4 linked regions of the Homo sapiens genome follow. The protein of the gene in region 1 purifies or fractionates together with the protein of each later gene. This does not show direct contact. Each region holds a gene or a part of one and is shown in the gene's direction. Other genes may lie near its edges. The genes, in order: RGPD1, ARID2, DLGAP5 and CDCA2.

Region 1 (8,184 bases):
TATATGACATTGGACATTAATGCAAATGGAATTTTCAGTGCCATGGTGAAAATGTTATACCACTGAACAAAAAAAAAGTAGTGTGAAATGAAGTAAAATGTGAAAATCCGTAATAAATGCAGAAATATGAACTGCTTATCCAAAAGAGAAAAGTCTTTTGAGTTCCTCAAGAAGATTCTCTCTTTGGATGCTGGGCACGGTGGATGCCGGGCACCTGTATCCGAGCACTTTGGGAGGCTGAGGAAGATGGATCACTGGAGGCCAGGAGTTCAAGACCAGCCTGTCCAACATGGTGAAACCCCGTCTCTACTAAAAATACAACAATTAGCCGGGTGTGATGGCACGTACCTGTAATCCCAGCTACTCGGGAGGCTGAGGCACAAGAATTGCTTGAACCTGGGAGGCAGAGGTTGCAATGAGCCGAGATTGCGCCACTGGAGTCCAGCCTGGACCACAGAGTGAAACTCCGTCTCAAAAAAAAAAAAAAAGAAAGAAAGAAAGAAAAGAAGGTTCTCTCTTTGGGCACTCCTTTTCAACATATTCAGCATAAATGAATTAATGATACCATTTTTACTAGGTGAGTGTGTTTGGGCAAGTTGCTTCAGTGCTCATTCTCTTGGTTTCCTTTTTTTTTTTTTTTTTTTTTTGAGACAGGGTCTTTCTCTGTCACCTAAGCTGGAGTGCAGTGGAGTGAACATAGCTCACTGCAGCCTCCAACACCTAGCCTCAAGAGATCCTCCTGCTTCAGTCTCCCAAATAGCTGGGACTACTGGCATGTACCACCATGCCTGGCTAGTTTTTAATTTCTCTTTTTTTGTAAGCACAGGGTGTTGCTATGTTGCCCAGGATGGTCTTGAACTACTGGGCTCAAGTGATCCTCCCACCTCAGCCTCCCAAAGTTTTGGATTACAGGCATGAGCCATGGTACCTGGCTGTCTTTTGCTTTCCTTATCTGTAAAAACTGAGGATAATAACAGTACCCTTACAAAGTTGGTGGAAGAATGATATTAGTTAATACAAATGAAGTGCTAACAAAAAGAGCTTTGGAACACAGCAAGTACTTGTTAGGTATGGCTATTGTCATCAACACACTTTTCAAGGCAAACTTGTGGTTTCACCTATCACCTGAGATATATGACTTCTAAGTTCATCAGATCTTCTCTTTTGGTTTTTATTTTTAAATTAATTAAATATTATTATTCTTATTATTTGAGACAGAGTCTGCTCTGTCACCCAGGCTGGAGTGCACTGGCACGATCCCAGCTCACTGCAACCTCCACCTCCCACGTTCAAGCAATTCTGGTGCCTCAGCCATCCAAAGAAGCTGGGATTACAGGCGTGCACCACCATACCCAGTTAATTTTTGCATTTTTAGTAGAGATAGGGTTTCACCATGTTGGCCAGGCTGGTCTTGAACTCCTGGCCTCAAGCAATCCACCCATCTGGGCCTCCCAGTGTGCTGGGATTACAGGCGTGAGCCATCGTGCCTGGCCCTCTTTTCATTTTAGAGATAGGAATCTCATTCTCTTCCAGAGGCTGGAGTGCAAAGGCATGAACATAACTCATTGCAGTCTCCAACTCCTGGGCTAAAGGGATGTTCCCCCCTCTGCCTTTGGAGTAGCTGGGCCTCAGAACTGTGCCACAACTACTGGCTTCCATCAAGATCTCTGTCCTACCATTTCATCTTCCTACTAGGCTATCCCCACATGGATAGATAAATGGTACCTCAAGTGAAAGAAATCAACTACCTAAAATAGGATTTTCCACTCCAAACTAGATTTTCTTTACATGTCATTTCTGTTAATGTGGGCCACACACACTGGTAAGCTCAGAATCATCTTTTTCTTTTCTTTTATTCACATCCAATATGGTTGAAATAAAACAAAATGCTGTTTTTCCTTTTTTAGAAAGGCAATACTTGTTCATTATATCAAAATTTAGAAAATATGGAAAAACAAAAAGGATAAAAAATTATCCACAACCAAAATAGCCCAAATTTCCAGTTAAAAATATCAACGCATTTGATATTTGTCCACATAATTAAGACTGTAATGTTTACACAAATGTGAGCTTTTAAAATCTAAAAGGCTCTCACTATTAAAAATGTTTTGTTAAATTTTGTTTTAAAAGTAAGATTTTAATATCCAAATTCCCAAAATAGACATTTTTGAAGATTTGGAAAATACAGACGGCTGAAAATCTTTACATTATTACTGTTAAATTTTGGTATGTTCTGTTATTCTGCTAGTGAAATATATATAGATTTGGGGGGCTATTCCTTTTCCTTTTTTTTTTTTTTGAGACAAGTGTCTCACTCTGGTGCCCAGGATGGAATGCAGTGGCGCTATCACAGTTCATTGTAACCTGGAACTCTTGGGATCCTCCCGCCTCGACCTCCCAAAGTGCTGGGGCTACCGGCTTGAGCCACTGTGCCAGGCGAATGGCTGTTCCTATATACACAGTTGACCCTTGAATAACATGGGTTTGAACTGCCTGGGTCCACTTATAAGCTGACAGAAAATACAGTATTGGAGGGGCCTGCATATAGAGAGGTCTGACTTTTCCTCTAAGTGTTCCACCCGCAGGACTGACTGCGGGATTTGAGAATGCGCTTTGTTTTTTTTTTTTAGGAAGTCTTACTCTCGCCCAGGCTTGAGTGCAGTGGCGCGATCTCAGCTCACTGCAACCCTCGCCTCTCAGTTTCAAGCGATTCTCGTGCCTCAGCCTCCCGAGTAGCTGGGATTACAGGGGCCCACCTCCACGCCCGGGTAATTTTTTGTATTTTTAGTAGAGATGGGTTTTCGCCATGTTGGCCAGGCTGGTCTCCAACTCATGACCTCAGGTGATCCGCCCGCCTCGGCCTCCCAAAGTGTTGGGATTACAGGCGTGAGCCACGGCGCCCGGCGGGCAAGACACCCTCAGAGCACAGGGTGCTGCCAAGAGCCCGGCCGAGTGCAGCTCGAGCGCCGACGTCGCCAAGGATACACAGTGCTGACGCAGTACACAAGTGCGTCACAGTGGTCCTCCGCCGGCTACGTCAGTGGCTTTCAGGCGCTTTCCTGTTGGAATTGGCGACTGCTGCGGGGCTGAGCGCTGGTTTCACGCGTCTCGGGAGCCAGGTTGGCGGTGCGATGAGGCGCAGCAAGGCCTACGGGGAGCGGTACGTCGCCTCGGTGCAGGGCTCCGCCCCGTCGCCTGGAAAGGTGAGTGGATCTCGAAGAGACCGACGGCCTCGACCTGGCCGGGCGGCGGCCTCGACCTGGCCGGGCGGCGGCCTCGACCTGGCCGGGCGGCGGCCTCGATGGCTCAGGCGTCATGGCTCCCGACGGGCGCTGCTCCCTGGCGCGCTCTGTTGAGGCGCCGGCCTCGACCTGGCCGGGCGGCGGCGGCGGCCTCGACCTGGCCGGGCGGCGGCGGCGGCCTCGACCTGGCCGGGCGGCGGCGGCGGCCTCGACGTGGCCCGGCGGCGGCCTCGATGGCTCAGGCGTCATGGCTCCCGACGGGCGCTGCTCCCTGGCGCGCTCTGTTGAGGCGCCGGCCTCGACCTGGCCGGGCGGCGGCGGCGGCCTCGACCTGGCCGGGCGGCGGTGGCCTCGACGTGGCCCGGCGGCGGCCTCGATGGCTCAGGCGTCATGGCTCCTGACGGGCGCTGCTCCCTGGCGCGCTCTGTTGAGGCGCCGGCCGGCTGGCGCAGTCCTGTGGGCGGCGTGGCGCTTGCAAGCGCAGGAAGAGTCCTGGGGGGACCGCGGTGGGCGGGATACCTTTGGCGCCGGATCTTCCTCTTTCTCCCGGTTTGTTCCCGACGGTGCTCGCTCGTGGGCCCGCCCTGGCCCGGGCTTTCTGGCCCCATAGTACCCGCGCGGCCTAGTTCTCGGGGGCTTGGGCACCCGGGTGCTGTATCGGCGGGTTTCTTCCCATGTCCTGGACATTTACTTTATATGCTGCGGCGGAGGTCGTACCTCCTTGGCCTGGAGGAACCCAGTGGGGACTGACGCAGCTCCGGGTGAGCTTTGGCGGCTGTGTCGAGTGACAACGTAGGCATCTCAGCACGGACATTTGCAGTGGCCCGACGGCGCAAATGACAGGGGAAGTCCCCTTGTTTTGAGTATGAGGTGTTTGTCGCTGTCCCTTTATAAGGGTCCAACTCCACTCATACTCACCTCCCTCGCCCCCCCCCCACCCCGCCCAGAACACTTTGGTAGCTGCCTTTGCTTAAAAAAAAAAAAATTCTAAAGTTCTTACAAATCGTTAGTATGGCTTACAATTTTTAACCTTTTCCACAAATGTTTTTAGGGTATTTTTCCTCTTTACAGGTAAATAATGTGATCTATTTTGGATTCAATAAGACTTTAGTAATTGGATCTAAAGAGTGACGGAAGAAGCTATTAAAGGTGGATGTGCACAGAATCTTGAGTCAGTTTGCTTTGGCTTGAATAATCACAGCACTGTCGTTTATAAGCTGGGTATTTGGGGCCAGTTACACTTTTCATCCATAGATGGAGTTGTAACATTAATAGAATTTGATAGGATGATCCATTTTAAACATTTAGGGTATTGCTTGACACATAGCACTAAGTGTTAGCTACAAGTCACTGTTTTTATTGTTGATGTTAAAAGGATATTGGCGGGGCGCAGTGGCTCACGCCTGTAATCCCACCACTTTGGGAGGCCGAGGAGGGCGGATTGCCTGAGGTCAGGAGTTGGAGACCAACCTGGCTAACATGTCGAGACCTCGTCTCTACTAAAAATAGAAAAAAAGTTAGCCGGGCGTGGTGGTGCACACCTGTAGTCCCAGCTACCCGGGAGGCTGAGGCAGGAGAGTCGCTTGAACCCGGGAGGTGGAGGTTCCAGTGAGCCGAGGTCGCGCTACTGCACTCCAGCCTGGGCGACAGAGGGAGACTCCAAAAAAAAACAAAAAAAAACCAAAAAACGGAAACTCAACGGATGACCATGATTATAATAGTAGCATAATTGTGTCTCTTATCATAACTAAGCATACGTTATCTTATTTTGCGCTTCCAGCAACCCTGTGGATATTGAGACCTGTAGAGATTTAAGATACTTGTTCAGGGTGAAATAGGTAGTGCAGCAGAATTTTGGCAGTGGGTCTGATTTAGTTTCTCTTGGGAACAGTGGAGTAAGTTACAGTCTATTCCTCCAGAGAAGAAGGATAGATATCTACTTGTACATTGTAATTTCAAACTGCTAGCATAGTATAAATATGAATGTGATGATAGAGTCTAAAACAGACCTTAATTGAGGGTTCCTGTAACTCCTGAAATTAAAGACTTTAATTTTTGTGTTATTTTTTTTTTTTTAGGTGGGGTCTCACTCTGTCACCCAGCTGGATGCAGTGGCGCTATCTCGACTCACTGCAACTTCCGCCTCCCCAGCTCAAGCGATCCTCCCACCTCAGTCTCCCGAGTAGTTGGGACCACAGGTGTACCCACCACACCTGCTGTTTTGTTCTGTTTTGTTTTTATTTTTGGTAGAGACTGGGTTTCACCATGTTGCCCAGGCTGTTCTTGAACTCCTGGGCTCAAGTGATTTCCCCGCCTCCACTTCCCAAAGTGTTGGGATTATAGGCGTGAGCCACTGCACTGGCCATTATTTTATTTTTGAGACAAGGTCTCTTTCTGTCTCCCAGGCTGGAGTGCTGTGGCAGGATCGTGGCTCACTGCAGCGTTGACGTCCTGGGCTCAATCCATCCTCCCACCTTAGCCTCCTGGGTAGCTGAGACTACAGGCATGCCAGCTACAGGCATGCGCCACCATGCCCGGCTTTTTTCTTTAATGTAGAGACGGGGTCTTACCATGTTACCCAGGCTGGTCTCCAACTCCTGGGCTCAAGTGATCCTCTCGCCTTGGCCACAAGTGCTGAGATTACAGGTGTGAGCCACTCTGCTCAGCCTGATTTTTTTTTTTTTAAACAAGCTTAAAAAAAAAAAAAGCATGTTTAGAGCCTTTCTGAGATTCTTAGTGGGGATCTTGGCTTCCAAAAGATTAAAAACCACTGGTCTAGACAGAAGTTAGAATGTTCTTTCAACTACATAACGTCTCCATTAAATAAAGTGGAGTGGTAGCAACATTTTGAGGATTGGTTATTATGACCACCTCTCTTACACTTAGAGTCTTTTTTTTTTCCCCCAAATTTAAAGTCATTTACATTAGAACCTGGGGATTTCAGCGGAATATGGATTAACTAGTGAGTAACTTTGGAACATGTGAAGCTATTCTGTAAAGTTAGGTTTGAGTGAAATGACAAAACAGGGTGCTTTGGATAGAAGGTAAGGAATGGAGGGAGAAGAGGCAGTGGCTGTGAAGAATATAAAGAGGTTAATATTCTCCCCCAGTTTGGCAGAGACTGGCCATCTGTGAACTGCCCATGCTTTCTAGAATGTCTGAGTTTTGGAGTGTGATGATGCGTCTGTATATCATATCTTTCTAGTCTTCCATTGTGCTTTCATTTGTTAGTCTTCTCTTGTTTTGCCATTTTTGTACTCCCTCACATGTGCTTTTGCCCTTCTTAAAAATATTCTTCGTCTGTAATCCAAGCACTTTGGGAGGCAGAGAGACCAGCCTGACCAACATGGTGAAAATCCGTCTCTATTAAAAATACAAAAATGAGCCGGGCGTGGTGGCAGCGCCTGTAGTCCCACCTACTCGGTAGGCTGAGACAGGAGAATTGCTTGAACCCTGGAGGCAGAGGTTGTGGTGAGCAGAGATTGCGCCACTGCACTCCAGCCTGTGTGACAGAGCGAGACTCTGTCTCCAAAAAATAAAAAAATAAAAAAATATATAATTCTTTCTCTAGTTTTTCTTTTTCCAGATGGCTTCTGTTTAGTTTTTCTATGTTCTGTCAAGTTGGTTTCTTATTCTGCAGCTGATTCCTACTTCTCAAACTCTACTTGACAGCTCTTATTTTTATTTATTTGTTTTTTAGAATAGGGTCTTGCTGTGTTGTCCAGGCTGCCATCAAATTTTTGGGCATAAATGATCCTCCTACCTCTGTTGCCTGAGTACTTAGGACTACAGGCAGGCACCTTTGACAGCTGTTAGTTGTTTTTTCTGCCCTTTACATCTATACTTCATGCTTCTGAGTAACACACACATATACTTTTGTTATTTTGAATTCCCTTTCTCCCATTTTAGACATTTTGTTTTCTTTTTTTTTTTTGAGACAGAGTCTCGCTCTATGGCCTAGGCTGGAGTGCAGTGTCGCGATCTCGGCTCACTGCAAACTCTGCCTCCGGGGTTCACGCCATTCTCCTGCCCCAGCCTGTAGCTGGGACTACGGGCACCCGCCACAACACCCGGCTAATTTTTTAGTATTTTTAGTAGAGACGGGGTTTCACCGTGTTAGCCAGGATAGTCTCGATCTCCTGACCTCATGATCCGCCCGCCTCAGCCTCCCAAAGTGCCGGGATTACAGGCGTGAGCCACCGCGCCCGGCCCCACTTTAGACATTCTGTACTGGCTATTATGCTCCTCCAAAACTGTCCTCAGACACTTTGCTTTGCCCCTCATTGTTTCAGTACTGTTATTGGAGTTTTTGTTTAAATGAATATTTAACATTTATATAAATATAAGGTAAATATTTTGCATTTGAATTGCCCTTGTTGTGCAGTTTTGTTTTTCCTGGACTGAATAATTGCTTTATTTTTTGGTTTGCTTGTATGTTGTGTTACTACTTGGTTACTTAAACTCAGCAACTTAAACCCTCAAATGTGGTCAAACTGGTCACATAATCCGATCAATTTCAGCTTAAAACATTGATTGATTGATTGATTGATTGATTGTCTGTCTACCTGGAATACCCTTACTAACCGACTTCTCCAACCCAGATTGGTTTTTCTTCCTCTTTGCTACACAGCTGTGCTCTTGGGACTTCCCTTTATCACCAGTTTGAGAATTCCCTTCATCTTTTTTCTGAGTTAGACCCTTTGTTTCTTGTATCTCATGTCATCTTCATTTACTTTCTTTGTTTTGGTGTAGCATAGTTCACTTGCTTTGAGGAAAAGTGGATGAGAGGTTTTTTTGTTTGTTTTTGTTTTGGGACAGAGTCTTGCTCTGTTGCCCAGGCTGGAGTGCAGTGGCATGGTCTCAGCTCACCACAACCTCCGCCTCCCGGGTTCAAGTGATTCTCCTGCCTCAGCCTCCCGAGTAGCGGGATTACGGGTGTGCG
Region 2 (8,172 bases), on another chromosome or scaffold:
AGAACAGACAGGACCAGAAATTGTATCTTGGTGATCCACATGCCAGGAGTAGCGCGGCAGAGGATGGAGAGTGGAACTTAGCGATTGAGGCGCAGCCTGCAGAAAGCTGCACTTCTGCACTAGAGATTAAATAAGAGGGTCAAAATCAACATAAACTAAACCCTTTTTCAAAGTCATGTAAACACAAATGATTGCTGCAACTGGAAAACAACATTGAAAATAAATGATTCGTGTGATGCATATCGATTTCAACAAACCTTTCCTTAAACCTTTAACGTTACTCTTACAAGCAAATACCGTTAATAGCTTACTTCTGTCTTAATTTTTCTAACCACAGGAAAATTGAAACATAAGTAATCTGATAAACATCAAGTTTTACGTTGATGCTTTTGACCACAGGGTATATACAGTGTTAAGAATTTAAATTCTATCCATCAGATATACTTTAGGACTCCATTTTGAAGATAGCCTCTTCTACAGAAAAGAAATTTTTAAAAGTCAATTCTCCAGTTTCTCATCACATCTTAATTTTTTTAAAAAGGCTTTTAAACACTAGTATCACTCCAAGTCTTTAGCCTTTGATACTTGCTCTGAAAACACACTATCGTATGTTTGTGTATGTACACACACACACACAACAGTGACTTAAAAGTGGCAACCGCCTCTTGAAAAGTAAAAATATGTCATCCCTCCATTCTGCCCTTAAATGAGAAATAAAGACAATAGATTTGCCCACTGCAGACTGGGATACCAGAAAAGACGTTCTAAGTCTCGCCTGAGACAATATTAACCTGCTATCTTAAGTCCCAACTTGGATGACTTAAATTTCAGTGTACGTGCCTCCGTTCCCACTCTTGCCCCATCAGCTCCATCAGCATCGTCATCCCCGGCTCGGATCCCGGCCGCGACCCGCCAGGGCCGCCGGAGTCCGCGAATACCGCCCGCTCCCAGCAACGAAGCTCCCCGGCTCCCGGCCGACCGCGAGTTCCTGGAGCAGCAGCCTCCAAGGTTCCCAAAGCCCACGATTCAGGCGAGCGGTGCCGACCGGGCCGTGGACTGTGGCATTTTAAAACTACAGAAGTCTCACTGCACGACTGGCGCGGCCGAGGTGGCCCAGGAGACCCTCCAAGAGATTCTGGTCAGCTGCCGGGAGCGTGGAAGAGCAACCAAAGCCACCAAGGCGCCGCGCCAAGTCCCCGGAGCAGTCACCTCAGCTTTCCGTTCTCCCTCTAGTTACAATTACTCCACAGGCTTCTGGCGCTTCCTTCGAGAAAATGAAAAACTAAAAACGCGTAGAGGTGGTAGAAGTCGTTGGCATTTTCCGTTTAATGTGATCCCCCAGGCTCCATCCCTTAAGTGGGGTTTCCAAACTCGGATGCATCCTCAGCAGAGGTTTTCCATGTTGACAGATCTCTCGCCTCCCACAAAATGGGGCCGGGGAGGCGGCCGCGGTCTCCTCTATGGGCGCCGCCATTTTGTGAGGCGGCGGCGGCGCGGCGGCAGGAGCCCGGGGTGTGTATAATGGTTGAATAGAATGACCCCCTCCAGGGAATCCCCGGCACTGACGGTTACGTAAGGGGCTGTGCGCAAGTGCGGCGTTTAGGGAATCCGCACAGCCCGGGCCACGCAGCTCCGAGGCCCACATCTCCACTTCCCCTAAGAGGACCGATGGGGGAAGGGACAGCTGACCGGGTCTTCCTCGCAGCAGCCTCACCCCTAGTCTTCCGCGGCCGGCGAGCTTCTCCACCTCCCCGGGCCGGGTCTCCGCCCCTCACAGGCTTCCGAGACACTCACTGGCCCTGGGTTGTCAGGATCTTCCTAGCCACAACCTTATTCCGACCCCACTTAAGAGACAAACTTTAGTTGGGAAATAAGTCCGTTTCCTAGAGTGAGCACCGGAAGCAAGCTGCACTATATTACATAATTTTTCACCTCCAAAGCAATGTTCCCATTGGAACGACTACCTGAAATAACCCATCCAGACCCCTACTACCCTGTGACCTTGGGTTAGGCAGTGACTTTGCCCGTGGTGGCCGTCACTAAAATGGGAATAATAATACGTTTCACGTACTGTAATCTTAATTAACATTTGTAGCAAAGAGCCGGCTCCAACACCCCTCGTAAATGCAAATTTAGGTGGTAGTATTTGTTGAGATGTTTTGACTCATTTAAGCAAAGGGTTTTTTTAACCTTCAAAATATTTTAAACGAGGATTACATTTAAGACATTTGAAAGCAAGGAAAAACGTTTTATTCGGTATTTATTTTAAACGCAGCAATCTTGAAGAGACCTTACTATAAAAATGTAAACCTTAATTATTATTGTCGAAGTTCGATAGATTGCTTCCCAACCAGTTTAGTTAGTTTGCATAACTTTGCTCATAGAATACTCCAGTTTGATATGTGAAGCCAACCAGCGGCAAGATGAATTAAGAGCATTACTCTATTTCCACAGAACTAGGACAGACAGTTCACATTGTATTTAACGTATAGTTTGCTAAAGTTAGCGTGTGGATAATTCATAGAAAATGTGCTAACCAGGCCCCAAAATACTAGCATACGGCTCATAAAAGCCGATTCCTTTAGATTTTACAAAAACAGAAGGTAACAAATTGACTTTATTCCGATCTGTGAATGTTGCGTAGCGTGAGGGGCTACCCCGGTGAGCTTCCTTTCCCTTCAGAGCGCCACACCGGTTCTGTCGGGCGGGCGGGGACTCCGAGGCGGCCCTTCCAACAGCCGGGCCGGGGACGCGAACATCGCCTCCACCCCTAACCCTGGAACAACCGGTAGTGGCCGTTTCCCCGCACCGCCCCCCTTTCCGCCGGCTTTGTGTGCGTGTGAAATGTGCGGCACATTGCAGACGAACCCTAAGCCCGGCGAGTCGAGTCTATTGTTCCCCGCGAGGATCTGCCGGGGCGGTGTGGAGCCAGGCGCAGTGCCGCGGCCAGCCCTCGGGGGTCGCTGTGTGGCACTGGCTGCCAGGCCGTGGCGGCGGCAGAGAGGGAGGCTGGCGGGGAGGGAAGCAGGCGGGCGGCGCGCAGCGGCTCAGCTGCCGCCGGTGCTTCTGCCCGGGGACGCCCCGGCCTCAGCGGCCGAGGCCGCGCGTGAATGTGTGCGAGGGCCCCGCGGAGCCGGGGCCGAAATACACGCTGTCACCGCGCTTTCCACAAACCACCACACAGACCTCCCCCTCCCCACCCCCAGCCCCGCCTGCCCTAGCCCCGCCGCCGCCGCCGCCGAAACTCTTGGGCCTCTGGCCGCCCAGACCCCTCACCATCGGCTCGCCTTGCCCGTCGCCCGCTCGCGCGCCCCCGGCAGCAGCACCATGTTGAATCGCGTCCCCGGGCTGAGCTGCCTCAGCCGGCGGCGCTGAGAGGCGGGCGAGAGCCGGGCCACGGGGAGGGAGGGAAGGAAGGGGTGGGGGCCGCGCTCGCCCCGCGGCTTCGCGCGGATCCGGCAGTCGCCTGCCCTTCTAGTTTCGCTCCGATTTCTTTAAACTTTTTTAGAAATTCCCCTCCCTCCTTCCCTCCTCTCCCCCTGGCCTCCTGCTCCCTCCTTCCCCTCCTCCTCCTCCTCCCCCTCCCTCCCTCCCTCCCTGCGCCGCCGCCGCCGCCGCCGCCGCCGCCGCCGCCGCCACCGCCGGCCCATGACTGAGCCCCGCCGCCGCCGGCCGAGGAATGGGCTCCGGGCTCTGGTAGGAAGCGCTGGGAGCGGGGGGCGCTTTTAAAACACCGATCTGGGTTTTTTAAAAACCTCCTTTGAAAAAATAATGGCAAACTCGACGGGGAAGGCGCCTCCGGACGAGCGGAGAAAGGGACTCGCTTTCCTGGACGAGCTGCGGCAGTTCCACCACAGCAGAGGGTGAGAGCAGAACCGGGGGGGCAGCGCCGGGGCGAGCCGGGGCGAACGGGGCTCTCCCGCCCGGGCCGGGCACGGGGTCCCGGCTGACAAGTGCGGGGCTTTTTCTCTCCCGCAGGTCGCCTTTTAAAAAAATCCCTGCGGTGGGTGGGAAGGAGCTGGATCTTCACGGTCTCTACACCAGAGTCACTACTTTAGGCGGATTCGCGAAGGTGAGTGGAAGTTTTAATTTGTATTTCCCTCTCGCTGGCCTCCTCCAAAAAGTCTCCTTTGACCCCGGAGTGGGCGCTTGGGGCTGGGGGGGTGGCCCGCGGGGGCAAAAGGCGTTCTTTTCGCTCCCAGCCGGTGGCACGGAGGCGGACGGCGGCGGGGCTGTTTTTGGCCTGGTGGCTCGCGTGCGCGCGGCGGGCGCGGGGCTCCGGCGGGCGGGCGGCCCGGCGCCGGCTCGCGCCCTGCCCGGTGCCCGGTCGGGCCGGCGGGGTCTGAGCGCCGCGGCGGGGAATGCGGGCGTGCGGGGCGCCAGCCTGAGCCCCGCGCCCGCCCCGCTCCCGCGCCGCCCGCCCGCTCGCTCGCGAGTCAGCTCTGCCGCCGCTGCCGCTCTAGCACAGGCGGAGACACACAGAGACACACAGACTCTGAGAGCAGTTTTCGTGCAACTCAAAATTAGCGCGGGCAGGTTTAACATCGATAATCGGCTGCGAAATAATCCCGGCAGCCGGGGGCACAGCCTCGGCCCCGTCGCCCTCGGTTTATACAGCTAACAAAAGAAACCAGGACCTGTCTCCAAATAGCCATCTTAGGCTTCAAGGCTAGGCAGAAGCTGTAGGCCTCAAAGAAGGGCCTATGGAGATGGATAGATCTGGGAGAGGGATCGGAATCGGCCCCAGCCCCGGCCCCCCCCCCAACCCGCGGACGTCGCTGTCCGGAACTGTATTGATCCTTTTGAACTTTTTTTTTTTTTTTTTTTTTTAGTGTAAACGGACCGCGTTGAGATTTAAAAGGGGGCGACAGAGGGACTTGCGATTGGTTATTGTCCGGGCTTCAAAAACAAAACAAACCCACCAAACCCCCCCACCCCCAAACAAAACAAGTGGTATTAAATACAGGGCTCTCTGGTGAAAACACAGTGATTCAAGAAGCCCTTGCTTAGTAACTCTTACCGATCGATCCGAAACACCCACTGATGCCTTAGGTATCTACAGATCTCTGTAGAATGGGTATTTATTTCATAGTTAGGTTAAGATTTTCTTAGATTGTTCACGTTCAGACAACTGTGCCTGTGTTTTACCAGGTTTCTGAGAAGAATCAGTGGGGAGAAATTGTTGAAGAGTTCAACTTTCCCAGAAGTTGTTCTAACGCTGCCTTTGCTTTAAAACAGTATTACTTGCGGTGAGTAGTAGTGACTTTTCCATAGTATTTGGAAATAAGGGACTTATGGAGAGATTTGTTTTTAGCAAAAACAAAAGCAAACCTTGCACACCAAACAGTTCTTAAGCTCTTGTTCATTTCAGACTGAGACACATTTAATATAAATAAAGTGAGATTGTAGGAAGGTGAAAGTCTTCCTCACCAATTTCAGGATCGTTTACATTTTTCATACAAAATCATTACAGGTGACACCCCAGCCCCAATCTTGGTAAACATTCTTTTGTGACATTGTTATTCATCGCTTGATACCCACTGAGGGGCAGAAAGGTGATGCTTAGTAAAAGACTTAAGATAGTTAATGAAACTTTGTAACCTTTGGGAAAATTTTTTTCTTTGTTTTGGAAACTCCTTTAGTTTTAAAAATTCTGGCTTTAAGAATTTTTTTTTTTTAATGAAACTTCTTGTTTGGAACAGTGTCATTGAATAGGTTTTTCAGTAGAATATTCCTACATGGCATAACATGTTGGTGGCTTAGGTGACCAGGATTGTTTTGATAATTACTTTTTGTTGAATTTCCAGTGACTTAAATTAGTAATTTAAATTAGATAATTTAAATTATTATATCTTTAGGAAAATGGGGATACTATGAAATGGGATACTATAATCTGGATTTTCTTTCATTCTCCCTCTTCTTCTTTGACTGCTTATTCGGCAAAGTTTAATTTCTTATTCAGTTGGTATGTGATACAGTCTAGATGATATATTTTGTGATTTAGCGTTTTTTTTTTTGCCTCTAGTTTTTCTTCTAGGAATACTTTCATACTGTAATTTATCATGATGCTGTGTTTTATTTTTAAAGTGCTTATCTTAGAGGATCCTAAGTTAGTTGGTGTTATTAAAAACTAAAATGATATTCTTTGTATTTATTGCTTTTTAATAGTGATAGTACAGGCCTTTTTTTGTAAGGTGGCTTCTGCATAATTTGAGTTTTGCATTTATTATTGCTTCAGATGCACTCAGTTATTGTGTATTACGTTCAGCATTCTGAAATAGGAAATGCAGTAATCGCACAGGTGTACTTTCTATTGGCTATCTTAGATTGACTTCAGGCTTGAAGCTGGAGTTCGCAGAACTTTGTGGAGTAGTTATTGAGTTACACAGGAAGTCTAGAAAATATTAAATATGGTTGTCATCTATTGTGTGTGTGTGATGGCATTTGTGTCAGAGTACATTTTAAATTAAAGGGCTAAATCAAAAAGCAAAATTAACCTCCAAAACCGTTGAGTTAGTAGTGGGGTGAGAAACAAGAGAGTTTTATATTCATCGTGACATTCATTTGCTCATTTCTATTTATGATATTGAGAGGAACATGTTAATACATATTCTGGTTTTATGTTTTTATCAGTTTAAAGCATTTGAATTTTGGACTGTTTGAAATACATATTTTTGAAGTTTTGCTTCATATTTGTTAGATTGATTGACTTAAGTTTTATAACCAGAAAGTACTATAGAATATACATGATTCATGAGATGTATATTTTTCTGAAGAGTTTACATTCATACTAATAGTTTTAGCATAATCAAATTAATATCTAGGCTTCCAATTTTTTTTAACAAAAGTTAATTATAAATATTGTTTTTCCAGTTGTCATTTTTATCTTGGGAGGATATCATTAATTATAGGTACTGTTTTTAACTATATAGTTTCAACATTGTAAGTATTTACATGGTCTTCAGATCAAATTGGGCTTTTTGCTCTTATTAGAAGCTGCTTTTTGAACTATGTCCTTAGTTAAACTTGTTTTTCCTCCATATGTCACTCTCTAGGTTTGTTTTTGCAGGGTTGTAGCTAGGCTACTAGGAAAAAAGTTGAAGCATTTGTTTTGGAAAATAAAACCATGTGAAGATTTGCATGGCTTGTAAAGAAATACAAAAGAAATATGCTGGTCAAAACTTAGGTACTACCAACCTTGAAAGAATTTTTTCCTGGTGGTCTAATATTGCACAGTAAGAGGATATATATGATGCTAGCTTTTACACCTTCCTCTGAAAAATCTTAATTGGCAGACAAGATGCCAAGTAACAGCAATTCTATTACCTACCCATAAGATTGGCTCTTCATAGTAAGAAATAGTAATCGAGTGACTTGATAAGTTACCTCTTTGCTACGTCAGATTGAATATCATCATTACTGATGAGCAGATAATGCAGTGTGTTTTTTAAATTACAAGTGGAATAATTTTTTAATATGAACTGCTTTTTCATTTGACCTATTGTAAGACTGTCATTATATGTGTTATTCCTCCTTTACAAGTTTAATATTTGCTCACATTCCCCTGTAAGTTTGCTATTAATTGGATGGATGGCTGTTAGCCTAGTGTTTTATGATATATCTTCATAATATTACAGATAATTTAAATTAGGAAGAGCAAGCTAGTATGCTGGCCATGTATATTTTAATAGTGTTTTGTTATTTTTGATACAAATATTGACAGTCATTAAATATAGACTTGAGTATTAATGGTCTGCCAGACATTAACTTAATTTTCTCAAATATACATTTATTCAGTTATAGCTTGTCTACAAAAATTTCTTAGAGTCTAAAATTGAAAATGCAATTGATTATTTTAACATTGGCATTTAATTTTTACAAATATAAGTGCCTGCCTGTATCAAAGTTTCTCACCTACTCCAGAAATATATACACGTACTGTGTACCCACAAAAATTAAAAATTAAAAAAAAGTAAAGTGCTTACAGATAATGTGTAAAAGCAGTCTATTTAAAAATTGGAGGCCAGGTGCGGTGGCTCACGCCTGTAATCTCAGCACTTTGGGAGGCCGAGGCAGACGGATTACCTGAGGTCAGGAGTTTGAGACCAGCCTGGCCAACATGGTGAAACCCCGTGTCTACCAAAAATAGAAAAATTAGCCTGGCATGGTGGC
Region 3 (7,619 bases), on another chromosome or scaffold:
CAAAGAAAAGCAGGTCAAACTCTGAACAGTAGGATCGCAGTTCTAAAAAGCATTATGGGAATATGTGGACATAGGACTGGAAAACCATACCCTGAAGTGACAGCTGAGTAATGGAATCCTGGGTGATTTGTCATTATTGTTCTTTGTAGTTTTCTGTTATTTTTCTAATTGTCTGTAATAAATATGTACAGGCTGAGCAACCCTAATCAAAACATCCAAAATTCTGAGCATTGACATGAAGTTCAAAGGTCATCCTCAAAGGAAATGCTCTTGGAGCATTTCAGATTTTAGATATTTGTATCAAGTATGCTGAACCTGTAAGTATAATGTAAATATTCCAAAATCTGGAATCTAAAATATCTCTGGTCCCAAGCATTTTGGATAAGGGATACTCAATCTGTATTTGGTATTCAGATGAAAAGGGTAAAACACTCTGGTTTTGAAAAGAGATGGTTTGTATTTGGCAGGAAATTCCATAACCCTTTTTATAATATGGCTTTTAATAAAAAAATCCTTCAAGACATATATTCCTACTGTTGCTTCTTTTCCTTTCCCAAGTTACCTAGTATTTTCATGTAGCATTTCTATCTAGTAAAATAAATATTTTATTGTTGTTTTAGAAAACGAACCAGAAGGAAAGGTGCCAAGTAAAGGAAGACCTGCCAAAAATGTAGAAACAAAACCCGACAAGGTAGAGAATAAACATCTTTTTAATTCTAGATGCTTTGAAAATCTCATTGCTACTTTCATAAAGTTGAAATTAAACATAAAGAACTGCTTCAAAAGGTTAACCTACATGTGTGTTAAAACTTCCTGAACCATAAGAAAGCATCAAGAGGATTTACTCTTGTTATTTTTCAGGTATCTTATTTTCAGAGCTTTATAGGTAGAGAAAGCATAATTTTGTTAGAAGATGGAGAAAAATAATAAAAACACAGCTGAGAGAAACCTGTATGTGGGAATTAGCCAAGACATAGGGTGAAGTGGGGTGAAATGCATTGACTTTGGATTCATTTAGGCCTGGGTTTGAATACTCTCTCTGCTTCCAATTAGTTGCATAACCCTGGGCAAGTTATGTAGTTTATGAGCTTCTTTTCTTATTCCTAACATGGAATACCTGCATAGAGTAGTTGTAAGAATTAAATAAACTAAAATTTCTGCCTGCATCTAGCATGGTTTCTAATAAGGTCTTCAAAAAAGATGCCCCATTTGAGGACCCAACCCCTTGGCCTATAATCTATGATATAGTTTATTTTCTTTTATTTTATTTTTTGAGACAGAGTCTCACTCTGTCGCCCAGGCTCGAGTGCAATGGCGCGATCTTGGCTCACTGCACCTTCCGCTCCCCGGGTTCAAGTGATTCTCCTGCCTCAGCCTCCCGAGTAGTTGGGATTACAGACGTGCACCACCACGCCCATCTGATTTTTGTATTTTTAGTAGAGACGAGGTTTCACCATGTTGGCCAGGCTGGTCTTGAACTCCCGACCTCAGGTGATCCACCTACTTCGGCCTCCCAAAGTGCTGGGATTACAGGCGTGAGCCACCACGCCTGGCCAGTATAATTTCTTAATTTAAAAAAAGTACCAAAGATTAAGTAACCTGGCTAGATTCTTAGTAAAAAATCAAACACAGATCAAGAAAGGAAACACACAGTGAATCTTCACAGATAAAGCAGCTGGACCTTATAGGTCCCCCCTTAAGATTAACCCTTAAGGATTATCACTAGTTTTTGCTTTGACTGCCATGCTGGCTTCAACAGTGTTACCACTTAAACTCTTGTCCAGGTTGAAATACCTGGGTTTGAGTTCATATCTTATTAAAAATCAGAAACCTGGAAACCTCTAGAAATTATTTAAATACCAAGTAACAAATTGACTTGAAATAGTAAATATGCTTTGTATTTTATATGGTTAATCTTTTGTGTCACATTGAAAGTATTGCTCTTGTGTTAAGGTTATTTATAATCTAAGGTTATTTAACTTAAGAATTTGGTCCTTAATGATAGTCATTCCATAATGTTAGATTTCTGATTTTAAACCATTGTAATTATCAACATAATTTTTTTTTTGAGACAGAGTCTCGCTCTGTCGCCCAGGCTGAAGTGCAGTGACACGATCTCGGCTCACTGCAAGCTCCACCTCCCGGTTTCTCACCATTCTCCTGCCTCAGCCTCCCAAGTAGCTGGGACTATAGGCGCCTGCCACCACGCCCCAATAATTTTTTGTATTTTTAGCAAAGACGGGGTTTTGCTGTGTTAGCCAGGATGGTCTCGATCTCCCGACCTTGTGATCCGCCCGCCTCAGCCTCCCAAAGTGCTGGGATTACAGGCATGAGCCACCGTGCCTGGCCGTAATTATCAACATAATTTAAGTAAAAAGATACGTATTTGTTGAATAAGTTTTTCCATATTAATTTTCCATTATCTTTTAATTTGTTGTAATACCCAAAAGGTATTAGTTAGTCTTTAAATAAGAATTGGTTCGGGGTGGGTGCGGTGGCTCCCGCCTGTAATCCCAGCACTTTGGGAGGCCTAGGCGGGCGGATGACGAGGTCAGGAGATTGAGACCATCCTGGCTAACACAGCGAAACCCCGTCTCCACTAAAAATACAAAAAATTAGCCGGGCGTGGTGGCGGGCGTCTGTAGTCCCAGCTACTTGGGAGGCTGAGGCAGGAGAATGGCGTGAACCCGGGAGGCGGAGCTTGCAGGGAGCCGAGATCGCGCGACTGCACTCCAGCCTGGGCGACGGAGGGCTACTCCGTATCAAAAAAAAAAAAAAGATTCTATTCCCGGGTAATAGCAATGGATTTAGCGTAACTGGTCTTCTGATTCCATGTATACACTTAATTGTATCTGTTTTTGTCTCTCAAATTATGTACATAGAACATATATTTCTGTTGTCATATTTTCAGACCTATAAAAATTGGTTGAATATATCCTCAGAAGAGAGAAATCTTACTCTACTTTGTTAACTCACATCCTAGGGTATTTCTTGTAAAGTCGATAGTGAAGAAAATACTTTGAATTCACAAACTAATGCAACAAGTGGAATGAATCCAGATGGAGTCTTATCAAAAATGGAAAACTTACCTGAGATAAATACTGCAAAAATAAAAGGGAAGAATTCCTTTGCACCTAAGGATTTTATGTTTCAGCCACTGGATGGTCTGAAGACCTATCAAGTAACACCTATGACTCCCAGAAGTGCCAATGCTTTTTTGACACCCAGTTACACCTGGACTCCTTTAAAAACAGAAGTGTAAGAATATGATCTTAATAATAAGTCTCTTGCTAAGATGGGTAATAAATGCCTTTCTTTTTTTTTTTTTTTTTTTTTTTTTTTTCAGACGGAGTTCGCTCTGTCGCCCAGGCTGGAGTGCAGTGGCGTGATCTCCCCTCACTGTAAGCTCCGCCACCCGGGTTCACGCCATTCTTCTGCCTCAGCCTCTCAAGTAGCTGGGACTACAGGCGCCCGTCACCACGCCCGGCTAATTTTTTGTATCTTTAGTAGAGACGGGGTTTCACCATGTTAGCCAGGATGGTCTCGATCTCCTGACCTCGTGATCCGCCCGCCTCGGCCTCCCAAAGTGCTGGGATTACAGGCGTGAGCCACCGCGCCCGGCCAAATGTCTTTCTTATATTTGGTCTATGCTCTTAAAAAGTTATTATTAGTGAACTGTGTTAATTAGGAATCATGCAATTTTTTTCTTTAAAAAAAATTCTTCAGAAGGTACAATAATGTAATTGACAGTTTTTATATTTCCTATGCATTGTTATTTTCACTATACAATTTGGGTTTTTTGTTTTTAATAAATGACTTAATTATAACACATACATTTTTCAAAAGAAGAAAATTGCTATACTGCTTTAGCTCAGATACGACTTTTTCCTCATTTTCTTCTGGCTTAGTATTTAGAAAAACTGGCCCTGAAGACAAAAATGATTAATTTGCAAAACAAGGGAAAAATCAGTTGGAACCTTTAAAAGAAAAGGCAAGATCATTTTGCAAAGACTGGCTGGCAGCAAATATACTAAAAACTGCTCAGCAGCATCTAAGACTGTTAAGTGTTTATGTTCCATTAAGAAATCTTCAAAATCTTTGAATCTGATTACAATTAATTAGTAAAAATGGACATTCACACTATAGGTGTTTACATTTTCTCCCCTCCAGAATACACATTTTAAAAAAATAGAAACATTTCTATTTTAGCCCAGATCTACAAGTGACACAATTTTGAAACCCTTTATATTAGATATATGGAGTTCATGTTTCATGAAGTATATTTTTGCTATTGTTTTTAGTGATGAGTCTCAAGCAACAAAAGAAATTTTGGCACAAAAATGTAAAACTTACTCTACCAAGACAATACAGCAAGATTCAAATAAATTGCCATGTCCTTTGGGTCCTCTAACTGTTTGGCATGAAGGTATAGTATTTAATTAATTTATTCATTTTTTAGAATAATGTTAATACAAAAAATATTTTGCTTTCAGGTATAGTAATTACATTTTTACTTTTCTGGATTATTACTTGTCAGATTTGTTTGGAGCTCTTTTTCACCATATCATTTGGGGATGTGAACTCAGGGTCAGAAAAGACGGGAAAGCATGGGTAAAGATATCTGAAGAGAATATTGGAATGAAGAATACAGACAGAAGAGGGGAAATAAATGTAAATTTAAAGAAAAAATATTGAGAGCTACTTTAGAGGAAATGTGAAGTGATTGAGGCAGAAATAAAATTTTAAAATTAAACATTGAAAAGGATTTTTAAAATGTCTTTTTAGGGGCTGTCATTTTAGGAATTGTTGCTTTGAAATTTATATGTAAGATTTTCTTTAATTTATAGAACATGTTTTAAATAAAAATGAAGCTACTACTAAAAATTTAAATGGCCTTCCAATAAAAGAAGTCCCATCACTTGAAAGAAATGAAGGTCGAATTGCTCAGCCCCACCATGGTGTGCCATATTTCAGGTATGTCTGTGTGTTTCTAGTGTAAGAATTTTGTATTAATATCTAGACATTTAAAACCAAAACTAAAAATTTTTAACCTTAATATAGTGGGGGAAAACTGGTGTTAGGTGATTTTCACGTTTAAATTTTAATTATTTTTTTGATAACTAGTACATTCATGTGGTTCCTAATTCAAAGGGTAGGAAAAGGTACAAGTGAGAAGACTTCTTCTCAGCACTGTGACCCAACCACATAGTTTGAACCTTTCATGAAGGCAAGTGTTACTCATTTCTTGTGAATACTTCCATGGATAGTTCATGCATATGTAGACAAATATAACATGTACATTTTTTTCTTTTTTAAAAAATATGGACAATAGGCTGGGCGCGGTGGCTCACGCCTGTAATCCCAGCACTTTGGGAGGCCGAGGTGGGTGGATCACAAGGTCAAGAAATCGAGACCATCCTGTCTAACATGGTGAAACCCCATCTCTACTAAAACTGTAAAAATTATCCGGGCGTGGTGGTGCACGCCTGTAGTCCCAGCTACTCATGAGGCTAAGGCAGGAGAATTGCTTGAACCTGGGAGGCGGAGGTTGCAGTTAGCCAAGATTGCACCACTGCACTCCAGCCTGGCAACAGAGTGAGACTCCATCTCAAAATATATATATATCTATATACATATATATATCGGGGAATCTGCCCTGATATTCACGTAGGTTCTTTTCTGTTTTCCTTAAGCATTGGCCAGCTTGAGAAGTAAAGGGACAGAGTACAAAAAGAAATTTTAAAGCTGGGCATCCGGGGGAGACATCACATGTCGGTAGGTTCCGTGATGCCCCACAAGCTGCAAAAACCAGCAAGTTTTTATTAGGGATTTTCAAAAGGGGAGGGAGTGTGCGAATAGGTGTGGGTCACAGACATCAAGTACTTTACAAGGTAATAGAATATCACAAGGCAAGTGGAGGCAGGGTGAGATCACGGGACCAGGGCGAAATTAAAATTGCTAAATGAAGTTTCGGGCACCATTGTCATTGATAACATCTTATCAGGAGACAGGGTTTTGAGATCAACCAGTCTGACCAAAATTTATTAGGCGGGAATTTCCTCTTCCTAATAAGCCTGGGAGCGCTATGGGAGACTGGGGTCTATTTCACCCCTGCAGTTTCGACAGTAAGAGACGGCCACGCCCAGGGGGCCAGTTAAGAGACCCACCCCCAGGTGCGCATTCTCTTTCTCAGGGATGTTCCTTGCTGAGAAAAAGAATTCAGTGATATTTCTCCCATTTGCTTTTGAAAGAAGAGAAATATGGCTCTGTTCCGCCCGGCTCACCGGCGGCCAGAGTTTAAGGTTATCTCTCTTATTCCCTGAACAATCGCTGTTATCCTGTTTTTTCAAGGTGCCCACATTTCATATTGCTCAAACACACATGCTGTACAATTTGTGCAGTTAATACAGTTATTACAGGGTCCTGAGGTGACATACATCCTCCTCAGCTGACAGGATTAAGAGATTAAAGTAAGTAAAGACAGGCATAGGAAATCACAAGGGTATTGACTGGGGAAGTGATAAGTGTCCATGAAATCTTTACAATTTATATTTAGAGATTGCAGTAAAGACAGGCATAAGATATTACAAAAGTATTAATTTGGGGAACTAATAAATGTCCATGAAATCTTCATAATCCACGTTCTTCTGCCATGGCTTCAGCCAGTCCCTCCGTTTGGGGTCCCTGACTTCCTGCAACATGTATATATATATATAGAGAGAGAGAGAGAGACAACATATATCTATAGAGAGAGACAATATCATACAATACACACTATTCTGTTTGCAAATCAAATAGATGAGAAGTAAGTATCTCATTATAGTTTTACTATTCATTTGTTCTATTATAAATATACTTTTTGAGAGTGACTTCATTTCTTTCTTTTCTTTTGTTTTGAAATGGTTGCACTCTGTTGCCCAGGCTGGAGTACAGTGATGTGATCTCAGCTCACCGCAGCCTCTCTGTCCTGAGCTCAAGCCATCCTCCTGCCAGTGGGTGGCTAATTTTGGTGTGTGTGTGTTTTTTTTTTTGTTTTTTTTTTTTTTTGTAGAGACGGGGGTCTTATGATATTGCCCAAGCTGGTCTCGAACTCACAGGCTCAAGCGATCCTTTTGCCTCAGCCTCCCATACTGTTAGGATTACAGGCATGAGCCACTATGTCCAGCTTAATTTCTTTTTTAGAGCACTGGGTTTTAGAATTATAAGGGATTTTAGAGGTAGCTAATCCATTGTGTCATTCCACTGAGTTATTGAAATATTAAGCAATCTACCTAACTAGATAATGTCAGAACTAAACCATTTCTGCTATCTCTTCTTTTTTTTTTTTTTTTTTTTTTTGAGACGGAGTCTCGCTCTGTTGCCCAGGCCGGAGTGCAATGGCGCGATCTTGGCTCTTTGCAACCTCTGCCTCCCAGGTTCAAGCAATTCTCAGGCCTCAGCCTCCTGAGTAGCCAGGATTACAGGCGTGTGCCACCACACCCAGCTAATGTTTATATTTTTAGTAGAGACGGGGTTTCACCATGTTGGTCAAGCTGGTCTCGAACTCCTGACCTTGTGATCCGCTTGCCTCAGCCTCCCAAAGTGCTGGTATTACAGGCGAGAGCCACCGTGCCCGACCC
Region 4 (7,619 bases), on another chromosome or scaffold:
TCCTTCTACTGATTAAAAAAAAAAAGGACCTTAATGTTGTACGTGTGTTGTGCTGGCAGCAGCCTCCTACGTTCTCCCTAATCCATTGGCTATCCCACAGAGCAGTCAAGGAGAGGCATTCATTTAAAGTAGAAATCGAATCATTCACCCGGCTGCTCAGAATCTTCCCATGGCTTCCTGCGATCCCTTGAATTAAACCTACACCCCTTCCTGATGCCTTCGTACGCCCACTCTAGTCTCTCCCCATCTCCTTCCACTCACAGGGCACACTGGCTTTTCTGCCCCATCCTGTTTCCACTCAAGGCCTTGGCCCTTGTTCTTGGAGAGTACCTCCCTCCTGTGACATCTTCCCTTAGACCTCTTTCTCATTGTTTTGGCTTCAACTCAGATTTTACTAAAGATAGAGGTCTGTCCTGATTCTAGCTAAGCCAGCACTTTTAGGGACTCAGCCACATTCCTGATATTTCTTCTCAATAGCACCTCTTTTACCTGTAACTACGTTTATATGTTTTCAGAATTTCACTCTAAACGGTAATTTCCCTGGCTGGGTATGGTGGCTCACACTGTAATCCCAGAACTTTGAGAAGCAAAGGAGGGAGGATCGTTCGAAGCCAGGAGTTTGAGACCAGCCTGGGCAACATGACAAAACTCCATCTCTACAGAAAAATTTTAAAAATTATCTGGGTGTGGTGGCACATGCCTGTAGTCCAAGCTATTTGAGAGGCTGAAGTTGGAGGATCGTTTGAGCCCAAGATATCGAGGCTGCAGTGAGCTGTGATTGTGCCACTGCACTCCAGCCTGGCTGATAGAGCAAGACCTTGTCTCAAATAAAAATAAAGTAATTTTCCCTAGATCCTGAGCCCCTCAAACAGTTTGTGGTGCATGGAAGGAAGGTTGTTGACTGACCGACACAATTCCTAAAACAAAAACATCAAAAAAGCAGTACATTTTGAATGTTTCATTTGCTTTGTATGTAAACATTGTTCTCCTTCTCCAGTAGAAAATAGAGAAAAAACAATTTTGACTAGAGAAACTTAAAATTTTTTTAAGCAGCATTTCAAAGTGCTGCATGTTCCTAGGATATTAAATCTGCCCCTACCATGTTCAAATATGTGTGCAAAAAAAGCACATTCAAAGTAAATTGTATGAATTTGAGATCATCTTTTCCCTGTCGTTCTGTTAGATGAATTGACATAAGCCTTTTTTGAATATTATTGCTGTTTATGTCGTGAACGTTTGTGTCATCAAGGATATTTCAATGTAAAATGTTCTCATTATGTAATAGAGAATTTGCTTTATATTTAACTGGGAAGAGAATCAAATGTGTGAACAGATCACCATCAAACATGGCTTCACGATATGAACTGCTTTTTCTCCCTGTGATATATATATATTTTTTCTGAGACCAAGCCTTGCTCTGTTACGCAGCCTGAAGTACAGTGGCATGATCTCGGCCCATTGCAACCTCTACCTCCCAGGTTCAAGCGATTCTCCCACCTCAGCCTCCCACATAGCTGGGATTACAGGCATGCACCACCACGCCTGGTTAATTTTTGTGTTTTTCGTAGAGACATGGTTTCACCATGTTAGCCAGGCTGGTCTCAAACTCCTGACCTCAAGTGATCCTCCCACCTTGGCCTCCCAAAATGCTGGGATTACATGCATGAGCCACTGTGCCCAGCCTACTCTGTATGATATCTTAAACGGAGGTAATTTTTACTTCACTTTTTGCCCATTGGTATAATTTTTAAACATTGCCACAAACTTCATATCAGTGGAAATGTTAGTAGTCCAAGTAATAAAAAAAAATCTAGATAGAGAACTTCATTTGTAATTTAATTTTTATGTAAAGGGAACTCTCAATTTTTATATTACTTGTCTTTAACTGGCACTTCTATCCCTGCTAATATAAATTTCATTTTATCAGTCTTTGGTTGGAACCCTGTTAACGGGGTTTCCAGAGAGCTTCTGTGCTTATACCATCAAACTTTGTATTTTAAGAGAATGGCTGGCTTTCAACCCTAAGAAGGAAATATCCTCCAGGTCCCATACAATCAGGAAAATTAGCTGGGAAGAGCCAAAAAGGAGAGCAGTGCAAGTGTAGTATCTGAGCATGTATGGAACTTCTGTGTCTCGTTCTGGCCCCTGGGCTGGAGGGCATGTGTAGACCCGTGCTGAGTAGAAACAGCTTGGACTGAAGGAGGTATGCTGAGACTTACCTGTGACACAAGCACCATGCAGATGGCTTCCTATGGATACATCCAGCACAACATTTGGTAAAAATTGCAAATAGACAGGTTCCTCCTGTCCCTTTTTTGTTGCACCATCCCAGAGCGCAATGTTTTTTTGGCACCTTCCATATAATCTTAGGCTGGCCTCTCAACATTTTTGTGTTAAACTTCCTTATTCAAACTGAAAATGGGTAATTCCAGGGTGAAGAAGCTCTGCCACACTAACTCCTTACCGCTGATCTTCAAAAAGCATATGTGTACTGTATTTAATTTTGGATTCAATGGCTGTAGGCCTAGAATATAGAAAGTATGAATTGATTATAATACTCCTTGTATATTTTGCACTTTCACAGGGCAGCCCTGCACTGTATCGAAATGTTAACACTTTAAGAGAACGAATATCAGCCTTCCAGTCAGCTTTTCACTCCATAAAGGAAAACGAGAAAATGACCGGCTGTCTGGAATTCTCAGAGGCAGGAAAAGAGTCCGAGATGACAGACTTGAGTGAGTAGAAATAATTCGTTCAGTTTTGACTTCAATATTTATAAAGACAAGCTTCTGAGTTATGAAATGATTTAGTGTGAAGCCAATCTTTTCAGAACACAGGTATATTTATAAAGTGAGACTAACATTAAAAATTTGGGACATTTCACACAAAAATAAGGATTTCTGGTTTCTCTTAGAAAAAAAAACCTGTTATCAGGCATTCCTAATCCTACATTTCCGCATGGTTGCAATTAAATTTTAAGTTTTAAAATGCCAGAGATAATTAGCTCATTTCACCTTTACCATAGAGCTTGTGGCAAATTTGAGTTTACAAATCTTGATTTTTACAGGATTATTATTAAGCTCGGCAAGCATTTAGTAAATGAAATAAATTCATATAAATTTTATATGAGTACCAAACACCCAACCCTGATGTTAAAAACAAATATATTCAGCCAGGCGCGGTGGCTCATGCCTGTAATTCCAGCACTTTGGGAGGCTGAGACGGGAGGATCACTTGAGGTCAGGAGTTCAAGACCAGCCTGGCCAACATGGTGAAACCCTGTCTCTACTAAAAATACAAAATTAGCCAGGCGTGGTGACACATGCCTGTAACTCCAGCTACTGGGGAGGCTGAGGCAGGAGAATCACTTGAACCTGGGAGGTGGAGGTTGCAGTGATCCCAGATCGTGCTATTGCACTCCAGCCTGGGCGAAGAAGTGAGAGTCCCTTTCAAAAAAAAAAAAAAAAAAAAAAAAACACACACACACACACAAATATATCCAATCTGATAATCTGCTATATTCTTTAACTCTTAGATTGTAATTCATTTGGTTGTTTTTTCAGTCTTTTTTTTTTCCCCCCCAATCACGAAGCATTTCAGATACCAGAATGTGACAAAATCTTGGTCTTACTGTAATCATTATAACCATTCTCTGGTACTTTACACACTAAGGTTTCAAATGATTCTGTTTTGAATTCTTGAACCATCTTTAAGTGCATTTCAGCACCTCCCATGAGGATTGCTCTGTTAGCCCAAGACAAGTCCCCCTCATCTACCTCTAGAGTGCGTGACCCATTCAGATGTACCGATTTATATTTGTAGTTTGTGACTCACTTATTGTTTCAGTTTTTTCCTGGGTTTTAAAATTTATTTACATCATTATAATTCTGCAGACAGTTCCTTTTTTTTAGCTAGAAAAAAACAGGTACGTTGTGGTTGTCTTTTTCATAAAGTCATACAGAGTATTAGAGCATAACCACATCTTTCAAAATAACAGGTGTCATCATTTAAAAAGCGTGAGGTACCATATTAGACATGCAAAAGTATTTTAGTATATCTTTGTACCTTTTAAGGCCTGAAAAAACTTAATTCTAATAATATGAATGTATTATCTTTTCAATAGACATGTTTTCATTCCTTTCAGTTAGATTTAATTTTTTTTGGAATAAAAAAGTGTGGTAGATTTTTCTTTTCATTGATAATTTAGACTTAAGCACTAGATTTTACTAAAATTACGATGCACAATAGCCGGGCGTGGTGGCTCATGCCTGTAATCCCAGCACTTTGGGAGGCTGAGGTGGGTGGATCACCTGAGGTCAGGAGTTCAGACCAGCCTGACCAACGTGGTGAAACCCCATCTCTACTAAATATACGAAGATTAGCCAGGCATGGTGGCATGAGCCTGTAATCTCAGCTATTTGAGAGGCTGAGGCAGGAGTATCACTTGAGCCCAGAAGGTGGAGGTTGCAGTGAGCTGAAATCGCACCATTGTACTCAAGCCTGGGCGACAAGAGTGAAACTCCGTCTCAAAAAAAAAAAAAAAAAAAAAGAAAAGAAAAAAAATATATATAATATATATGAAAACATTTATGCCTGTGTCGTTTTGTTTTTATTTTGTGTTTATAGCCAGAAAGGAAGGTCTCAGCGCTTGCCAGCAGTCTGGGTTCCCTGCAGTGTTGTCCTCCAAACGTCGGAGAATATCCTATCAGAGAGACTCTGATGAAAATCTGACGGATGCTGAAGGAAAAGTAATTGGTCTCCAGATATTCAATATTGATACAGACAGAGCATGTGCAGTTGAAACTTCTGTAGATCTTTCTGAGGTAATTCACTTACTTTACGCATAGGAAAATGAAGTTGTTGGTTTTCTGCATAGGCAGTTTTAAGGCTGTCAGTGCCGTTCTTCAATTTTAGTACCTTGTTCTGCCCTGTGGTTCCTGGGGTGTGTGTGTGTGTGTGTGTGTGTGCGTGTGTGTGTGTGTGTTTCCTACCTGTTAATTTTATGGTTGCTGGTATTTATCACTTATTAGAAACAGTTTGGATAATGATCTCACTTTTGACTACTAACCTTACAAAGAGAGTAAGCCCTGGGGTCTTCTACGTATGAGGTATTCTAGAGGGTGATGCTCCAAGAAGGGAGGAAGTTACAGTCTTGCCCTTAGGCAGTATTTTTTCTACTGGGGAGCAGGGTATAAGCAGATGGCTTCAGTGGAGCTGGTGGATCAGGTGGAGATTCTGTGTGGGGTGTACTCCACAGGCTTGGGAGTCTTGCACTTATACCTGCCCCTGACTGCTTTCCTTCTGATGGAAATCAGGGTGCCATTCAGCAATTTCTCCTTTGCTCACTTCTTTCAAGTAGCTCTAGGGATTTTTGTGGCTTATAACTACCTAAACCCTGTCAAGACGATCAAAAGGCGATATTAGAAAAATAATACTACTGAAGATCAGTTGACCTGCGCGCACGCGTGAATGGAGAGCTGGTCTCTCGTGACGGACTTTTCTTACTTCATGCTTCTAGTTCTGGTTTGACACAGTAGCTCCTCATGGCCTTTGTGAGAGGAGACACCTAACACCGTTACAGTTGGAACCCTTTCTGCACTTTCTCTGTCACTTAGATCCAGTGCTCGTCCTATTCGTTTTATGTGGACTGGCAGAACAAAGATTTGATAGTTATTAGACATTCTTCAGGCTCCAGTGGGTTTCCTTTGTATTTCAGTCGCCTGTAATCTCGGCTGCCTCCGCCCTTTTCAGGTTGATGTGAAATCCCCACTGGACAGAAGCAAGAATAATTGTTTGTTATCAGAACTTTGATTAATTGTTTGAACATACATCATGATTCAGATATTATTTCTGAATTAGTGTGAATGTGTTTTCTATCCTAGCCTTTAATGTTTTTCATATCCTAGTTATTGATATCGTTTGGCGTTTGATTAATAATTATATAAACTTTATTTTGAGAATTTTCTCTAAAGAATTACAGATGATACAGCTATCTAGGCTATAACAACAAAAATATATCCTTTAAACTTTTCCTGGGGAATTAAAAGTTGATTTGTGGGATGTTTAGGATGCAGTTAATATGAATAGTTCATGTTAGATTCCTGTACACTTTGAGATACACTTTATGAGATAAAGTGTACACTTTTCTCAGGATAAAGTATCTCCTGTACACTTTATGAGATAATGAAGGTGACTGATTGAACATCAGATTTCCAGGCAATCCATAATGTTTACTCAAATCTTCAAAAAGGCATTAGTAGTACTCTAATTAATAAAATGTAATACTCTTTCAATTTTTCCCCAAGATATCATCTAAACTTGGTTCAACACAGTCTGGATTTTTAGTTGAAGAGTCTCTTCCCCTTTCAGAGCTCACAGAGACTTCAAATGGTAAGTAATCTTTTCTTAGTACATGGCCAGTTGCCCGATTCATAGACATTTATGATTAGTGTACCTATTTGCTAAAATTTGGGGGAACTGAAATTGTTTCCTACTTTTTAGGAGCTCATGGCCTAGTAGAAATGCTTCTGAATTCTTGTTATATGAGAGATACTCTCTTTTTTAAGCTACGATCAATAAGAATTAGTGAAGTATTTTCAAGCTCATGGAATTTAGTATAAAGAGGTAGCACCTATGAACATATTAACAAGTATTCTTTGTTATAGGAACACTACTTGTAATATTTTTATTTGTTTTTAAGCATGTAAAAAGAGTCTTACCAGGATGTAAAAATTATTCTTTCTCAAAATCAGTATGCTTGTACTGGGTGAACATTACTAGCAAGGGTTTAGATTGACTTTTTTTCTACTTGGGTCTTTAAAACTCTTATGGGCATATAATTGGATCTTGTGTTTTATTAATCCATTCTGATAATTTATTGTAATTGGAATATTTCGCCTATTAACTTTTTAGGTAATTACTTAACATGGTTTTATTCACATCTGTCATTTTATCATATGTTTTCTATTCCTGATTATTGCTCTGTAATCTTTCATAGTCTGGTTAGTTGATATTATACAATTTCACATAAAATACAGAAACTACAAACTCTACAGATCAATTTCCTCTCCTTTCCAGCCATGGCTTTTATGATCCTTTACAGATACACACTTACTTCATTATAAGCCTCACAAGATGTTGTTTTTGGATTAAACAGCTGTATGTGCTTTGTTTTTCTTTTTTTTTTTTTAAGGCAGTTTCTTACTCTCTTGCCCAGGCTGGAGTGCAGTGGTGTGATCTCAGCTCACTGCAACCTCCCTCTCCCAGGTTCAAGCCATTCTTGTGTTTCAGCCTCCTGAGTAGCTGGGATTACAGGCGTGCACCACCATGCCCAGCTAATTTTTATGTTTTTAGTAGAGATGGGATTTTGCCACATTGGCCAGGCTGGGCTTCAACTCCTTGCCTTTAGCAATCCACCCATCTTGGCCTCCTAAAGTCCTGGGATTACAGGCATGAGCCACTGTGCCCAGCCAAAACAGTTATATGTGCTTTAAATAGGTTAAGAGGGGAAAAATAGTCTTTTATATTTACCCAGATGTACCATTTCTTATGTTGTTTTTTCCTAAAGATCTGAGTTTCTCTGTCTTATTTTCCTTCAACCTGAAAAAGAACTTCTTTAG

What was found.
Region 2: the proteins of RGPD1 (region 1) and ARID2 purify together in Homo sapiens (affinity purification with mass spectrometry; one large-scale study listed by BioGRID and IntAct). This does not show direct contact.
Region 3: the proteins of RGPD1 (region 1) and DLGAP5 purify together in Homo sapiens (affinity purification with mass spectrometry; one large-scale study listed by BioGRID and IntAct). This does not show direct contact.
Region 4: the proteins of RGPD1 (region 1) and CDCA2 purify together in Homo sapiens (affinity purification with mass spectrometry; one large-scale study listed by BioGRID and IntAct). This does not show direct contact.

The regions. Positions count from the first base shown.
Region 1 is NC_000002.12:86,939,106-86,947,289, forward strand, and holds the start of RGPD1 (RANBP2-like and GRIP domain-containing protein 1), read left to right. Parts: upstream 1-3,012; 5' UTR 3,013-3,131; coding exon 3,132-3,203; intron 3,204-8,184.
Region 2 is NC_000012.12:45,726,066-45,734,237, forward strand, and holds the start of ARID2 (AT-rich interactive domain-containing protein 2), read left to right. Parts: upstream 1-3,640; 5' UTR 3,641-3,771; coding exon 3,772-3,863; intron 3,864-3,978; coding exon 3,979-4,072; intron 4,073-5,151; coding exon 5,152-5,249; intron 5,250-8,172. UniProt on the Homo sapiens protein: Involved in transcriptional activation and repression of select genes by chromatin remodeling (alteration of DNA-nucleosome topology). Required for the stability of the SWI/SNF chromatin remodeling complex SWI/SNF-B (PBAF).
Region 3 is NC_000014.9:55,172,701-55,180,319, reverse strand, and holds part of DLGAP5 (disks large-associated protein 5), read left to right. Parts: intron 1-620; coding exon 621-691; intron 692-2,983; coding exon 2,984-3,258; intron 3,259-4,301; coding exon 4,302-4,426; intron 4,427-4,847; coding exon 4,848-4,974; intron 4,975-7,619. UniProt on the Homo sapiens protein: Potential cell cycle regulator that may play a role in carcinogenesis of cancer cells. Mitotic phosphoprotein regulated by the ubiquitin-proteasome pathway.
Region 4 is NC_000008.11:25,463,591-25,471,209, forward strand, and holds part of CDCA2 (cell division cycle-associated protein 2), read left to right. Parts: intron 1-2,584; coding exon 2,585-2,735; intron 2,736-4,626; coding exon 4,627-4,823; intron 4,824-6,305; coding exon 6,306-6,390; intron 6,391-7,619. UniProt on the Homo sapiens protein: Regulator of chromosome structure during mitosis required for condensin-depleted chromosomes to retain their compact architecture through anaphase.